2 separate regions of the Homo sapiens genome follow, and region 1 is linked to region 2. Evidence: fine-mapped expression QTL. A gene starts in region 2. The other region holds a variant in brackets. All regions are shown on one strand. Distances are from middle to middle. Region 1 has its middle 84 kb from the start of LINC01923. Region 2 holds the start of PLCL1 (phospholipase C like 1 (inactive)).

The links.
Region 1: its variant is fine-mapped to the expression of PLCL1 in prefrontal cortex (GTEx, PIP above 0.99).

The regions. Positions count from the first base shown.
Region 1 is chr2:198,456,348-198,461,735 of GRCh38, forward strand. No RefSeq gene overlaps it. Among named protein-coding and RNA genes, the nearest start is that of LINC01923, 84 kb to the left of the region's middle. The variant A/G (reference allele first, on the strand shown) is at 2,444.
Region 2 is chr2:197,802,368-197,807,755 of GRCh38, forward strand. PLCL1 (phospholipase C like 1 (inactive)) reads left to right here and starts at 2,226. Exons shown (of 6, transcript NM_006226.4): 1 at 2,226-2,972. The coding sequence starts at 2,733. LOC105373828 (a long non-coding RNA gene) reads right to left here and starts at 2,179. Exons shown (of 4, transcript XR_001739850.3): 1 at 1,342-2,179. RefSeq lists a silencer at 2,273-2,402.

The sequences.
Region 1 (5,388 bases), 650 kb after region 2:
TGTTTAAATAACCAGGCTGAACATTTTCTATGATTTATCTTTAAGAGTAGAGGTCATTAAGTCACCTCAAACATGCTGGTCTTTTATCTATATATTTCTGCATCTTTAGATAATTTAGGACCTAAATTTTAGGCTATCAATTTCAAGGTTGTTTAAAGATTAAATTTAAAAAAGTTTGGCTCACTAGAATTCCTGCCTATGACTTGTTTTTCACATATGTAGAGTGGGTGGTCATCTGTGTTACATGATGGGACGATTCCAGGAATGTCTTCTTGCTCACATTTTTTTTGCAGCCCGTGAGTCACAGTGATAGACATGCCATATTAGAAATTCCTTAGGGTTAAAATATTGTCCCCAAAACCCAGTTTCTTTATCTTTCTTTTCCTTTCTTTTTATTTTTAAGGTGCAAATGGCTTTCTCACTCTCACATTCCAAGGATATTCTTAAATTTTCTTTCTTGACTTCTGCCAAATTTGAGACTCTGAGTGCATCTTTTTTTTTCTTGAGTTTTTGTGTTCTCTAAATAGTCTTGGTTTCTCTAACCTTTCAAACTGATGCTTAGAAGATATAAGCCAGGGTTTAGAAAACAGGTTTTTATTCAATCTCCTTTATTTTAGTGTGTTGCCTCCCTGTAGCCTTCTGCATGCCTAGTGTCTCCAGGATAGGAGTTGTCTTTTCTTTTTTTCCAGGGAGTTGATCTTCTCTCTCCTGGGTGCAAGATGCTTGGGTTTTTTGTTGGTTTGTTTGTTTGGTTGGTTGGTTTGTTTGAGAGTTGTTTTCCTGGCTTTCAATGAGATGGTGAATGGGGATCTCTCTTCCTAGTTTCCACCAATCCTCCCATTTTTGTTTGCAGCCTCCATTCCTATTCCTAGAAGTACCTGGCTGCTTTCCTTAACGTCCTTTCCAGGCTCTGTAGTGCTGGTCCTTTTTCATTTTGTTGATTCTCCTTCTTTGTCCCTTTAATCCCTTTCCTTTTTTTTTTTTTTTTAAGCCAGCAACCACTTGATGAACTTCTTTCCATCTTTTGTAGTATCTATCATTGCCTCTCCAGTTGTTTTGATCTTCTGTGATTATAGAAGTTTCATTTCTTTCAGTAGAGCTTTGGGAAGGAACTAAGGTAAATTTCTGGTTTTATCCTGCCATGTTTAATTAGATATCTTCAGGACTATTTTTCTAAAATACAAATGTCCTATAAATCTGTGGTCTTATCCTTTCAATGGCCTTGCCTACATACAGAGTAAAATATAAATTCTTATTAGATGTTTTTCAAAGTACTTCATGATCTGCTCCTTATCTACCTATCTTCCAGTAATTTTCTTTGCCTCCTTCAATTCTGGCACTCTTATATAAGTCAGTTCAGGTGTAACTGCCTCCTGGTCTTCCCTGGTTAAATAGCACGGAGGGGTGGAATATGGAAAGACTTTGGAAATCTCCTGGCATATCATATCGTTTGAACAAGAAGCAATGCAGAACATATAGAAGAGGCTTTTAAGCAGAGAAAAAGGCCTATGATCTCACCACAACCCAAGAGGTTCCAGGATCAGATACAGCAGGTAAAGGGGGGACAAGAAAAAGAGCTAGCATTGAACAGAGGCGTTAATAGAAAGCTTGTTCCCTTTCCCTCATATCCTTTCTCTCCTTCCCCTTCTCTGTCTCTAGTCTCTCCCTCCAGACAACCTCTTCTACTTCTTTCCTTCTACTCTCTTTTCCCTCCTCTCCTTACAACTAATGAAATTGTTGGCCCTAAAGCTTCACTCCACTGTAATAATACCATATATCCCTTTGGTCTAGGCCTCAAAGTGGGTGAAATATACTTTCTCACCCCTCGAGCTTGAACTTTGTCCTGTGACTTGCTTTGGCCACTGGGACGTTAAGGGTACAATGTGAGCAGAGGCTTGAATTGTACTGATGCAGTTGGGCTTGCTTTCTTGTGCTTCTGATACAGCCATGAGGATGACATTCCCTGGATACCAGAGTAAGTCATGTGGGGCAGAGTCACCCAAACTAACATATACACCCGCTTCTTGAAGCAGGGCTGCCCAGCCACCTGCAGATGCACAGTCAAGAAATAACTTAAGTTGCTAAGTGCCACTAAAATGTTGCAGTATCTTTCATTCAAAAAAGGTGGCTGATACAGAAACTGATACCAAGAGGTGGGGTACTGTCATAAAAACACTGAAATATATGGCATTTGATTTAGGTCTAGGTGGAGGAATGATGTGGAAACCTTAATAAAACGGAAAAGTAGCAATCCATATTTTGCAGTGGCAAGTATTTTGGTAAAACTATTGTCTGTCATATAAAGAAAATGTATCTAATGAACCTGCAAAGTTTGGTTAGGAGGTATCAGGAGAAGTGTTGAAGATATCAACTGGCTGTTTTGAACTGAATTTGATAAAATACCACAAGAAAGAAATGAGCTTAGAAAAGGACTGGTCAATTT[A/G]CATGCAGAATTTAGAGGGAATGTAAAGAGCCAAGAAATTGCAAATTTAAAATAGAAAATTGTTTCTCACCAAATCAATTATAACAAAATTGGGTATTTTAACACAATCACTAGTTGAAGACTAAATCTGGGGTGCTGCCAGAAAGACATGGCCAGTTAGACATGATCAAGCCAAGAGTGCAGCTGAAACACCCTCTGTTAAGCTTGCCAAAAGGATTAGAATGATATCTAGTAGATTTCTCACAGGACAAAAGGGGTCCATCAGAGCCCAAGAAATGATCCCAGAAATGTTTGACTCATTCCAAGAGCCCATAAATACAGAATATGGCTTAAAAAGAATCATGGGTGTGGCTTTGGTACATGCAGTTGATAGAAATCATATATGTAAAAATCCACAAAGGTTTTAAGAGAGATCTATAAGCAACATCACCACAAGCTTGGAACAGAAAAGAGACTGGCTGTTTGAAATGTAAAAAGACCTCTGAGTCTCCAACTTTCTACAGAAAGGAATATATATATTTAATTAATGCTACAAATTTCTCCCTAAACTTCTTTAGTCATTTCCCATTAATTTTGATATGCTGTGTTGCTGTTTTCATTCATAATATTTTATAATTTTCCTTTTTTATTTTGGTTTTGACCCATGGGTTATAAAGAAGTATATTATTTAGTTTCCAAATATTTGAGGTTTTTCTAGATAGCTTTCTATTGCTGATTTTTAATTTAAATCCATCGTGGTCAGAGAACATACTTTGTATAATTTGAATGATTTAAGTTTATTGAGGCTTCTTTATTCCCAGAGTATGATCTACCTTAATAAATGTTCTGTGTGCACTTGAGAAGAATGTGTATTCTGCTGCTGTTAGGTAGAGTGTTCTTTATAAGTCAATAAGGTCAAATTAGTTATTGTGCTATTTCCATCTTCTCTATTCATAACAACTTTCTATCTACTTGTATCAATTATTGAGAAGGAGTATTAAAGTATCTGACTATAATTGTGGCCTTTATCTATTTATACTGTTTTCAGTTCTATCAGTTTTTACTTCAGGTATTTTGAAGCTCTGATATTAGGTGCATAAATGTTTAGGACTGTTAGGTTATTTTGATGAAGTGACTTCTTTTTTATTATGAAATGATCTTCTTTTTGTCCTTGGTAATATCCTTTATTCAGATATATGCTTTAACTGATATTATGTCAGACACTCCAGCTTTCTTTTGTTTATTGTACATGTGATTTTTCTTTACCCCTATTTTAATTGTTAACCTGTTTGTGTCTTCATATTTGAAGCGTATTTCTTGTGGGCAGCATATAATTGCTTCTTTTTTTTAAAAAAAAATCCAATCTGAAGGCCTCTGCTTTTTAATGGAGTATTAATGTTTACATTCATATTTAAGGTGATTATGAGGTTTGAGTCTATGATCTTGTAATTTGTTTTCTATTTGTCGCTTCTCTTCTATTTTCCCTTTCCTGTTTTCTGTTTTCATTTAGATTATTTTAATTCTTTTTTATTTGATTTTCATCTCATAAGTAACTAATTAGACATAACTATTTCTTTTATTATTTTGATGGTTTCTTTGAGCTTTGTGGTATTTATGTTTAGCATCACATCTACTTTTAAGTGATGCTATACCGTTTCATGTATAGCTCACAATACTTATAATAGTACTTTTCCATTTCTCTCCTCCTGACCTTTGTGCTATTGTCACATATTTAACTTTTACATATGTTATAAACCACATTCTTACTGCTTTCATTTAAAGAGTCTATTGTCTTTTAAAGATGTTTATATATTTACCTCTGTAGTTAAAATTTCTAGTGCTCTATACCTTTGTCTATATTTATATTCTATCTGGTATTTTTCCCTTTTATTTGAAATATTTCCTTTAATAGTTCTTATTGGATAGGTTCATGGATGATGAATTCTTTCGGCTTTTATACATCTGAAAAAGTCTTTATTTTACCTTATTTTTTTATTTTTTATTTTTATTTTTTGAGACAGAATCTCACTCTGTCACCCAGGCTGGAGTGCAGTGGCACCGTGTCGGCTTACTGCAACCTCTGTCTCCTGGGTTGAAGCAATTCTCCTGCCTCAGCCTCCTGAGTAGTTGGGATTTCAGGTGCCCACTACCACGCCCAGCTAATTTTTATATTTTTAGTAGAGATGAGGTTTCACCATGTTGGCCAGGCTGGTCTCACACTCCTGCCCTCAAGTGATCCACCTGCCTCGGCCTCCCAAAGTGCTAGGATTACAGGCGTGAGCCACCATGCCTGGCCTCACCCTCATTTTTGAAAGATACGTTCACTGGGTATAGAATTCTAAGTTGACTTTTTTATTTTAATAATTTTAAAGAGGTTGTTCTACTGTCTTGTCACTTGCCTTGTTTCTGACATAAAATTTGCTATATTATTTATTTTCTTAGTATAATAATTGTTTTTTCTCTTTTCTTGACCAGTGATTTATTATTGGATGCCAAATTTAATATTTTCTCTTTATCACAAGTTGTGAACAATTTGATTATGCTATGCCTTTGTGTAGCTTTTTTCTTTTTTTTTGTGCTTGAGTTTCATTGAATTGGATTTATGGGTTTATAATTTTCATCAAATTTGGAAAAATTTCTACCATTATTTCTTCAAATATTCTTCCTGTCTTCACCTTTCTCTCTCTCTCCAGCTTACTGATATTCTTTTTTTAAAAATTTTTATTTTATATAGGTTCCAATACTATGTCTTCAAGTTCACTAACCTTTTCTGCAATGTCTAGTCTGCTGTTGATCCCATCTAGTGAATTTTTAATTTCATACATTATAGTAGCTTCCTCTGCATGTTTGATTTGTGTCTTTTTATATCTTCTATATCGCTACATAACTTTTTGAACCTATGGAATATAGTTATAATAAATGATTTACTATCTTTGCTTCTGTGTCAGTTCTTGGGCGCTTTTGAT
Region 2 (5,388 bases):
AAACGACTTGCTAGATTAGGGTCCAACTAGTTTATCAAAGCAGAGTAATTTAGACAACAATCTTTACGGATAGAGGCTCAGAGCAAAGGAATCAGAGGGGTGTGTGTGTGTGTGTGTGTGCACTTTCACATGAGGGTGAGAGGGAAGGATGCCAAGGAAGAGAAAAGAGTCCAACTAGACATTGTCTAGTTGAAAGATACAACATTTTGCAAGTTATATGCTGTACTTTCTGGCCTCTGTTTTTTTTTAAATCACTGACCTTGAATGTTTGTTAATAAAGTGATGCTAATTTTAAAATTTGTAAAAATAAATTATTATCATAATGGTACACAAATCTGTAGGATGAGGAACTTATAAATGACATTAATATCCTATAACAAGATAATGAGTGAGATAAAGGCAGTTTTACATTTTTCAGAGGACAACCGAAGAATGGGACTTTTATTAGAGTAACAAAGAAAAATGAAGCACTGACAACTGTAAATGACAGAAGTCAAATGTAATAATAGTTGAATATCAAAGAAAAAAATGATAGCCTAAAATAAGATATATTTCTGAGGATAGCAATTAAAAATATTTCCTATATAGCATAGACAGGAATTCCCTGAACTAAAGGAGATGGAAGACATGTATGGTTGTTTTAAGTCTGGGTACACTTTATTTTCTTCCTCTAGTCTGTGCGTTGTAAAGGCATACCTGTTGAAAAGGAAACTTTTGTTGGGTTACCCCTCCTGTCTTTTAAAGATGAGGGGGAAAAAGAAGCCTTTGCTGTTATGGATGCAGTTCTCAGAATCTCACTAGAGGGTGGTGTTGGTTCTAAAACCAGAGGTCACTGCTACTCTCTACAGTACATTCATTACTAGGCTGCATTTATGTTTAAAGAAAAGGCAAAGTCAAGCCTTCTCAGTATTCCCTAGTAGTTGATAAATGTCAAATCTGAAACCTCCCAAGTGCCCCTGCCAGTTCTGGCTGGTTGTAGCCCAGAGGAGACAGATAAAGTAGTGAAGAGATTATCGGAGGAGTTGGGTGGCTGATTCTAATTTTGGCTCCTGCACTAACTAGTAGACAAGACTCCCTGGGCCTTTGTCTCAACCGTAAAACAAAAATGATGTCCTAGTTGATCCCTAAATCCCCATATATCTCTAAAATTATGAGATTCAAACCAAATTGTTGGTCTAAAATGCTGAATAATTTCTCATGCTGTTAGCCAGACTAAGGAACAAGTAAAATCTCAAATTATTAAATTATTAATAAGATAAAATGTAATGTTATAAGTGAGGTTTAATATAGATTCTAATATCAAAGGAGTTTAAAATTAAAATGCCAAGTCTTTTGTCTTACCAGGGAGCCTTAGGACCATGGTTTGCATCTGAGCATTCTGTGGATAATTTCAGTGACTTAACTCATCATCCAAAGATCTCTCCCTTCTTGGTTGCTAGCTTACTGGAAATGAGCAAAATATGTTTTTATATAGGATTATATAGAGAAAGGAGGCTGAACCATTGTCAAATAGGAATGTTTTAGGATAGAGACTAAACTCCCCACCTGCATTTATCTGACTTGGATTATATCTGTGCTTTTTAAGAGTCAGTCTTCGGAGGGATTTAGTTGGTTCAGTTTCCTTTCACCCTCATCTCTTTCACTGACTCCCTTTCCTTGTTATATTTACTCACACTGCAGAATGACCTTAGAATCCTTTCCTGGAACCTGAAGCAAATTATGGAACCCCAAGATCCCAGTAAACCCTAGTTTATCTCTGCATGGACTTGACTTCTAAGAATTGGCCTGAGAGCCTGCAATTAACCTGTGACCACGCAAAGCTTCACCCCGTCACCCCAAACGCTTAGACATTCATACTCAATACCCACTTTCCTCCAAATTGCTTTGTTTGGCAGAAGAAGGTTTCTTTCTCCCCTCTCCTTCACCCAACCTGGATTTTTGTTGCATCTCAGGCTCATTTCGCAAATCTAAACTTCCTAAAATATACACGGAGCGCCTCCGGGTTTGCACACGCGCGCGCGCGGGTACACCCTGGCTCGAGTACATTAGCCCCGCTGGGCCGGCTCCCAGTTGCAGAACACATTCCATTCTTCGCGCTCGGGCACACCCCTCCGCAGTGAGGATTGGTCGGGCCGAGCCCCCTCGGCGAGGCGAGGCTCCTAAGAGGCCCAGACGCCTGCCAATCCCCAAGGGCTGTCAAAACAAGTCTCCCTCCCTGTCACAACAGAGCTGAGTGGAGGCCGCCGCCGCCGCCGCACTTCCTGGGACCGCTGCGCCGCAGTCCGCGGGCAGGTGGCGGGTGCGCCCGGCCGCAGTCGCCCGGCTCTGGCCCCTATCGGGCCGCCGGCGTCCGGGCTCCAGAGGCCGCCTGGCTGGGCGCCCGGTGCCTTTTGTCTGGCGCAGGGCCGGCGTTTGCATCACATTTCGGATACCTCCCTCTCTTTTTCGCCTCTCCTTCTGCCTCCCGCTCACATCGCCTCCCCACTCCCGCCACCGTCCCCCGCCGGACTGCTAGCCTCCTAGACCGAAGCCCGAGGACGTCTCTGCCCGAGCGATGTCCCCTCTCCAGAAAGTTGCCGCCGCCGCCGCCGCCGCCGCCACTGCCGCCGCTGGGCGGTGAAACAAAGTCTGGCGGGGCCGCCTCCCGGTGCAGGAGCGCACCGGTGCCTAGCGGCTGGACTCCGCTGCCGGGCGTCCCGCTTTCCCCCGGGGAGCCCTAAACGCTCCAGGCCATGGCCGAGGGCGCGGCCGGCAGGGAGGATCCGGCGCCGCCCGACGCGGCGGGGGGCGAAGACGACCCCCGAGTGGGCCCGGATGCCGCCGGGGACTGCGTGACGGCGGCCTCTGGGGGCCGGATGAGGGACCGTCGCAGCGGGGTCGCACTGCCAGGCGCCGCGGGGACCCCAGCGGACAGCGAGGCGGGCCTCCTGGAGGCAGCACGGGCGACCCCCCGGCGCAGCAGCATCATCAAGGTAAGCAAAGCCGCGCCGCACCGGGAGCGTGGCTGTGGGTGATGGGTGGGTCAGGGACCCGGGCAGGATGTGCGGTGTCCGGAGGCATCCGGGCTCAGCATTGTTTTCTCCCACCTCCTTCAACGCCAAACCTTCCTTCCTTATCCGGAGGTTCCCAGACTCAGCTGTCAGCCACGAGACGCACAAGTGACTTTTTCTCCCCACTGACGGCAGAGGAAAAGTTCCGCTCTGCGTCTTTGCGTTCTGATGGATGCTTTCCCTCATTTTCTCTGCAAGCTTCACTAAACCGTTGATGGAGGGAGGAAGGGAGAACTCTGGATAAATGCAGACCCACCGGATGGTTGTGCATTGCTTTCCAATGAAGGGTTAGCTTTTCCCATACAATGAAGAAAATGCACAGCTTACTCTCAAGTGTAAAAAAAGAATCCCTCTAGACTTAAATGATCCCGAAATCCCAAGATGTGTGAACTTTCCCGGTAGGGAGGCAGAGTTTTAAGTGGACCCTGCATCACAGTAAAGAGCAATGCAAGAGCCCAGAGTTTTTGCGCTGCAGAAAGCACAACCGGAAAGCAATCAATCCCCCAAGCATTATCACTGGTCCTTGTGGTTACCACCACATCCAGGGAAAACGCTTCCTGACCCGCTAATCACCTCACAGAATTTCTCTCCATCCATTTGGCAAGGAATTTGTAAACCTCTTTCCTCCCCTTTCTCTTTCCATCTTCCTTCCACTTGGGGCTTGTTTCTTCTGTTCGAGATTTCCTCTTTTGGGAGCATGACTTTGGGGTAAGGTTATTTAGGAAAGAACCCTCGCACAGGCTCTGGAAAAGGGCCTCAGTGTAAATGCATGTGAGTAATCAATCAAATGTATGTCAGATTAAAATTGATTTTGGTGGAGCAGTCAGTATAAAACGATATGTATGTATGTATATATGTAAGTATATATGTGTGTGTGTACATACACACACACACATCCCTCAATGACAATGAAAGATGGACTTTTACTTACTATTGAATTTATTGGGTTCACTAATATATTCAAAAGCTCTGTTCAGGGTTAAGCTGCGTAACCAGTGCATCACGCATGTTGCAAGCTCCCAGCACCAGCTTAGGTAGACTAACCACAGAATGTGGCTCCAGTAAAGTCTTTTTCCCAACACTGACACATGGAAGTTTAAAATCAGTGGAGAGGTTTCTATAATATATAAAGAAGAGTGGGTGGTAATTACAAATGGCTTGTAGTAGTTTCTGTTATTTTGTGGCTTTTTGATTATGTAACAGGAGTGTTCTATTCTGGGTGTGAATTTGGACAAAGGGAAATTACTATTTTGTTTTTAACCCACAGGTCAGAAAGCACACTGTTTTCAAACTTAAAAAACATCACAATTAGGAAACACATACATTTTGGATTCTACTGTATTGATACTACATGGTGTCCTGTGTGTGTAAAACAGGCACTGCAAGAGACTTTAAAATATATGACAATAAAGAGCAAACGGCTCTATAATGTTGTAAAAAACAAAAGTAATGGAGTATAAGGAATATACAAATTCTTGCAACTGAGTTTGCCACTTGTGAATTGTACTATGCTGGTTTATATTCTCAGAAGGGTCATTGCTGAGTAATGGTGCCTCTTTTGTTTTGAAGTTTCTTTTTGTGACAAAAAAGGAGGGAGACAACAGAATATTAACTTGATTTTTCCCCTATTTAATAGTAAATGCAATTAACATTTGGTAAATGGCCTTTAAAATTAAAGATATTAGAAAATAAAGTGAATTATTATGTTAGGTTTTTATTGGAAAAGTAGCACATACATATAATTTAAAAAATCAAATGTTGCAAAGGAGTGTGAAGGAAAGACCCTCAGACACTCCACATTCCCACTTATGTAGTCCACCCTCATAGATGTTAACACTTTCTTATGTATGCTTCCAAAATATTCCATGCATGTGTAAGCAGATATATCTATATGTGTCTATGATGAACTATAGCAGCTCCTGATTTCTACAAAAAAATCTGGCTAGAGTTTTACAAGTCTCATAGTTTTAAGCATTTTTGAAGCCTAGAGGGGGTAATCTGGTAGGTCTTTGGTGGGCAGCAGTCATTGGGGTCTGTTCCCAGAGGCCTTAACGCCCTTCTAAGGAGAAAAAAAGGCAGGTGGTAAGCTCTGTTCCACTCCGTCTCTGAGATCAAGAACCTTTCTGGTGACATTCTTGAATCTGCTGCCCTGTGGTTTGTTCCCTTTAGCATAGTAAAAATGAGTTTCCAAAAAAAGTTTAGATCATATAAGAAATACATAGCACATGTTCTATATTGAGAGAAAATGCATTTTTCACAGTTTTGCCAAGAGATTTTTTTTTAAATTTGGCATTGAAATGTACACAAAGAAGAAAAGCTTTAGTACATTTTAATCAAA